2 separate regions of the Homo sapiens genome follow, and region 1 is linked to region 2. Evidence: fine-mapped expression QTL. A gene starts in region 2. The other region holds a variant in brackets. All regions are shown on one strand. Distances are between the middles of the regions.

Region 1 (2,917 bases), 85 kb after region 2:
ATGTGGCCCCTTGATCTTGGACTTTCCAGCCTCCAGAACCATGTGTCCATAAATGTCTGTTCATTATAAATTACCCAATCTCCCAATCTGCCCATCTGTGGTATTCTGTTATAGCAGAAAAAAATGGACTAAGACATTTTTCAGCATTAATTTTTTAGACTGCAGTTGGGCAGTCTTTGAGTGGAAACTTGATGCGGGTAAATGACTTTATCTTTCCATAGTCCTATTCAGAAATAAGACCATGCTAAATAAACTTCTGCTGGGACAATTTGTACACTTATCCCTGTTAGAACACTAGGAGTATTTGTTTCATTCATTCATTCACCATTCGTTCATCAAATCAATACTTACTGAGAATCTACTATGTGCCAGGCACCATTCTAGGCTCTTAAGATACATCAGTACACAAAGATCTCTGTCTTCATGGAGCTTATATTCTATCAGGAAGAGATGGCAATAAACAACTGCTTTGGACTGAATTGAGTTCCCAACTCCTTTCCCAAAATTCATCATTGAAGCCCTAACCCTCAACGTAACTTTGTTTGGAGATAGGGCCTGTGAGGAGGTATTTAAGGTTAAATGAGGTCTTAAGGGTGGGGCCCCTAATCTGGTAACCCCTAATCTGGTAACACTGACGTCTTCATACAAACAAGAAGAAAAAGAAGAGACCTCAGATATCTCTCTCTCTCTCTCTCTCTCTCTCTCTCTCTCTCATCTCACACAGAGGAAAGGCCATGTGAAGATAAAGAAAAGGCTGCCATCTCCAGGTCAGGAAGAGAGGTCTCACCAGAAACCAACTTGGACTTCTAGCATCTAGAACTGTGAGAAAATAGATTTCTGTTGCTTAAGCCACCTAGTCTGTGATTTTTCATTATGGCAGCCAATGTAGACTAATACAATAATAAATAAATTAGACAATATGGGACAAGTCCATGGGGAAAAAAAAGAGTAAGTGGAGACCGTAAGAGGAATTACATATGGGTGGAGAAAAGGGGGCCGGGATCTGGCTGCTGCTGTTAAGTAATAGAGATGGAAACTGTGTTAGTCTGTTCTCATACTCTAGAAAGATACTACCTGAGACTGGGAAAGAGGTTTAACTGAATCACAGTTCCATGGGGAGGGCTCAGGAAACTTGCAATCATGGCAGAAGGCAAAGGGGAAGCAAGGCACCTTCTTCACAAGGCAGCAGGAGGGAGTGAATGTAAGCAGAGGAAATGTCAGATGCTTATAAAACCATCAGCTCTCATGAAAACTCACTCATTATCATGAGAATAATATGGGGGAAACCACCCCTATGATCCAATCCTCCCATCAGGTCCTGCCCTTGACACATGAGGATTATGGGGATTATAATTTGAGATGAGATTTGGGTGGGGACACAAAGCCAAACCATATTAGAAACCTTTCTGTGCCTCAATTTCTTCATTTTTAAAATGAGAATTGTGCCCAGGTACAGTGGCTCATGTCTGTAATCTCAGCACTTTGAGGGGCAGAGGCAGGAGAATTGCTTGAGGCCAGGAGTTTGAAACAAGTCTGGGCAACATAGCAAGACCCTATCTCTACA[A/G]TTAAAAAAAAAAAAAGTAGCCAGGCATGGTGGCATGAGCCTGTCGTCCTAGCTACCCAGGAGGATTGCTTTAGCCCAGGAGTTTGAGGCTGCAGTGAACCAAGATTGCACCATTGTACTCCAGCCTGTGTGACAGAACGTGACTAGGTCTCTAAAAAAGAAAAAGGAATTATGTTAGTATTTACCACATAGGGTTTTGTGGAGATTGAGTGGACTACTATGTATAAAGCTCTGAGAACAGTGCTTGGCACATGGTAAATGCCCAATAAGGGTTAGTTATTACTACCTTCTACTGCCACCCATACCATTTACCATCTTTGAATACCACTTACTTCTAGGGCCAGGGGCCACTCACCTGAAAGTGGTCTGTTCTCTAATGTGGAGCTTTGACTATAGTATTATCAGGTATTGGTGGCTGCCGCTGGATTGCTATTTCAGATCCTTTTTTTCTTTTTATTCGCTTTGTTGGCCACAGTGAGAAACTGGGATGCTACTCCAGAAGAAGACAAATCAGTGCCTCTGTACAAAGGGATCTTTGTGCTGCCAAAAGAGTAGAAAAGTTTATCCCAGAACCAAAATATTTCAGAATTGTGGAAAATCAAGTTTTGGAAACCTACTCAAAAGAAGAAGAAATATTGCTATCACAGAATCCCTGAATTAGTATACACCTAGCCGCTGTAACAAAGATGCTCAAAAACATAAATGACACTGTAAAAGAAGTTTATTTCTTGTTCACATAACTGTCCAAGGCTGGTGTTCCTGGGCAACTTCCAGTTCTCTTCCATGCAATGATTCAAGGACACAGAGTTCTTCCATCCTGTGACTCTACCATCCCCTAGAGCCTGGAAATTGAGAGTAAAGAGGGTACACCTGATTCTTAACCATCTTTACTTGGAAATGACATACATCACATTCACTCACATTCTATTAGGAAGCACTAGTTCATGGCCCACCTGGGGAGAAGTGAAGGTTAGTTCATGTAGCTGCAGAGTAGGAAGCCCCCTTCCTGGTGACGACTTCATATTATGAAGGGGAAACACTAATTTGGAAGGATCATGAGTTGTTTCCACAACAGTATCCTGCTCTGGCCCTAAATAACCATGTATACACTTCTTCCCAAACATAGAACATAATGGGACCTTTCCCAGGGGAGCCAACCCACAGTCAAGGAATCATTGCACTCAGCTCATGGTCAGGGATTTCTGAGTAAAGCACTGTCCTGCCTAAAGGTCAGTATGTGACTCCTTGTGGTCTCATGCTTAAAAGAAAAAAAAAATCAAAAGGCTAGTTAAGACTATATAACTCATGTGTATCATGGTATCATGTATTGTGGTAGGTTAACTATAATAAATA
Region 2 (2,835 bases):
AAAAGGATCTCAATGCTCTTGCCCTGACTGGTCCCCGGGCCAGTCTCCTCTCTAGGCTCAGGCCTCTGTTCCCTGGTGAACAGTCTTTAAGTGTTGCCTGGGTAATTGTCCCTCTATTAGAAAGTGCTACAGAAATGACATCTTTGGAAATAAGATTGCTTTCTCGTTTATTTCCTTAAGAGCATTGCTGCTTTTATTAAGCCAGCTACCCTTACTAAGCGAGCTCTGTAACAGGAGTTAGGAAACTTGCCTCTACATATATTCTCATCTTGCCCCTCTGAATCTACTTTCCTACATTCTTCACCATGCTCTGTGCTTGGAAGCTGACTCTATGGACTTTATTAACTCCAAAACTCTTTTATTTTTTACTTTCTACTGGGGTTGGCCCACTGGGGAGCACCAGCCAGATATTAAATTGCAGGAGGAGGTGAAGGTCATGGAATTAATTCCTAAGCTCCCACTGTGCTCTGCTTGAGGTTGTCAGTGATTTTTTCACCAAAGGCCTCTTGAGAAGCCCCTCCCCTACAGCTATAGCTTAGAGTCTCCTTGGGTCTGGTTCTCTCCTCTTGCTCCTGTAGGCCCAGGGTTATCATGTTACCACTGTTGTAAACCAACACGCCTCTTCCCGCTGCCCTGCAACCAACAAGCACCATTTCCTGTTGATTTCCCTAAACTTTGCCCATATCGTCTTAAATAGCCCCCTTATTAAACTCTTCTTGGTTATCATGTTGAGGGTGCCTATCAGGGTCAGAACCACCAGTGGGACAGCTCCCTTAGGAGAAGGCCTGTCAAAAAATTGGCCCTTAAGGAAAGTTTTAGAATTTCAAAGTGTGCAGAAATAAGGTCAGTGAAGCAGAGAAAGACTTTACCTCATGGTGCTATGAAGATAGCAGGTGATCTGTAGTGCTTTGGTTCAGGCTTGGAGGCTCCTTCAAGGTTCATCCACAGAGTTCTAGGGCTTCTCAGATAAGCATGGTGCTTATATATGGGAGGTATATCCAGGCAGTTTTTTACACCCTTGATGCCTAGTGAATTGGCAGGGTGAAAATGATACAGAGGAATAGGGCTGTCTCTGCTTTGATTACAAATACATGCTGAGTTTTGGCAGCTAAGAGGATGGGTGTGTGAGAAGCAGTTTTGATACGCAAATTCCCTTGCTGGAGTCAATGTGGTGTAGGAGATAGAGGGTAACTGGACTTTATGATGACATTCAGTGTTGTGGAAAAACCAGTGGCAGACAGGAACGTATATTTTTGTGAATCATGTCAGACTCTGTTGTCAAACTTGTTACTATCACATGTATCCCGCCAGGTGGTTCCAGGGACGTCTACAATGGAAGCTCCTTAGACCAGGGTCAGTGGTTTGTGCCTAAAAGAATACTGTAGAAAGTCATTGTCAATTTGTGGAAGAATGAGGTTGCAGATGGTTAGGTCTTCTTCTGTGGGGCTGTGTTAGGCAAAACAACTCCTCAATTTTGAGATATTGGTCTATAAGAAGGGTCCCATACTGGTTACATCCTCCAGCAGCATTTGCATTACTGCCAACCCTGGCTATAGTGGAGCCTATTCAAGCATATTGACTGTTTTGATGATCTTTACTGTTCACCATTAGTGGTTCAAACAACAATGTTTGAGCTGGTCAGTAGAGAAACATATGCAATGTAGTCAGAGAATGTGATGGGGTCATGGGGGTTAAAAATCTAAATCCAAATTCACATAGTTCTTCTGAGTTGTCCTTATGTTTCTTCTGTTTCTACTATTTTGAAGATTATCTGTTACAAAGCAACAACCATCAGAGAGTCAATCAAACAATGTTCACATGTTTAATGAAAAATTTATATGATCCCAAGGCTGATGTAATTGCCCACACAATTAGCAGAGAAAAAGGAAAATTTGGAAAGCTGCTATTCTGAATTCCTCTTGTGAATTGTTACAATGTCATCCTGTACGTTTCTGGATCTTGGTTTTGTAGGGGTAGTGCACCAAGATAAGCAAAAGGGCAAAGACTGAGAGCGATTTCCCTCTGAGTGAGCATTTCAAGGTAGGGTTATTAACTTCATTACAGTCTTCTCATAATTACCAAATGAAACTGTAGCCTCGCTGTGCTATTTCTTCTTTGTCCTGGGCCTGTAACTAGACTATATTTCCCAGGCTCCCATGTGGTAAGGTGTGGTCATGGGCATGGGATGGGAGGCTGTCAGGAAGCAGAAATGATTCTATAATTGGGTATCTTAAATTGTGTCTGGAAAAAGAGAAGACTAGACCAAGGTGACAGGTGTAATTTGAAAGGAAGCAGCAGTCATTCATATTGGCCAGTTTAAGGGGCTGCTTGATTATTTTCGAATCCAGTTGGAAAATATTCGTATTTTTGTCTGCACTCAGACCTGATTACAGAGTGGCCTTGTATTTTGTCTTGACCCATCATGGTCACAGGTGTTAATGATGCTCTCAGATGTCTGGGGCAGCTCTTCTCTTTCTTTTCAGGGAACTTCTGAGTTACTGCTCCAGTTACTGCTCCTGACCTTTCTAAAGCCAAAAATTATATAGACAAGAAGGACTACCCAGAAAAGGAACGTCACATAAGATCTTATGCATTCACAGTTGAAATGAGAGCAGACATCTTAGGAAAAGAATATGCTTAAGAAAGAGTATAGTATATAATCTCTCTCTCTATGTGAATTAAAAACCCATCTCCACGTCTATTCAAGGAAGGATTTAGGCAACTTGAGATAGACCACATCTCCCCATTCGCATGAGACAAGTTCCTAGAAGAATGTGCTGGACCTCTTGACTTCTTCTTCTTTTTTTTTTTTTTTTTTTTTTAAGATAGAGTCTC

Evidence for each region. PIP is the estimated chance that this variant, and not a neighbour inherited with it, causes the effect. A credible set is the group of variants that fine-mapping cannot tell apart.
Region 1: its variant is the best candidate, but not a certain one, in a credible set for the expression of IFIT1B in whole blood (TOPMed, PIP 0.60).

What each region holds. Positions count from the first base shown.
Region 1 is chr10:89,291,476-89,294,392 of GRCh38, reverse strand. It overlaps LOC124902477 (a long non-coding RNA gene), which reads right to left. Exons shown (of 3, transcript XR_007062233.1): 3 at 2,268-2,406. LOC105378419 (a long non-coding RNA gene) reads left to right here. Exons shown (of 3, transcript NR_188200.1): 2 at 725-821; 3 at 2,040-2,283. It also overlaps a transcript of LIPA not described here. Among named protein-coding and RNA genes, the nearest start is that of IFIT2, 9.1 kb to the left of the region's middle. The variant A/G (reference allele first, on the strand shown) is at 1,565.
Region 2 is chr10:89,376,175-89,379,009 of GRCh38, reverse strand. It overlaps IFIT1B (interferon induced protein with tetratricopeptide repeats 1B), which reads right to left and starts at 954. Exons shown (of 2, transcript NM_001010987.2): 1 at 870-954. The coding sequence starts at 874. It also overlaps a transcript of LIPA not described here.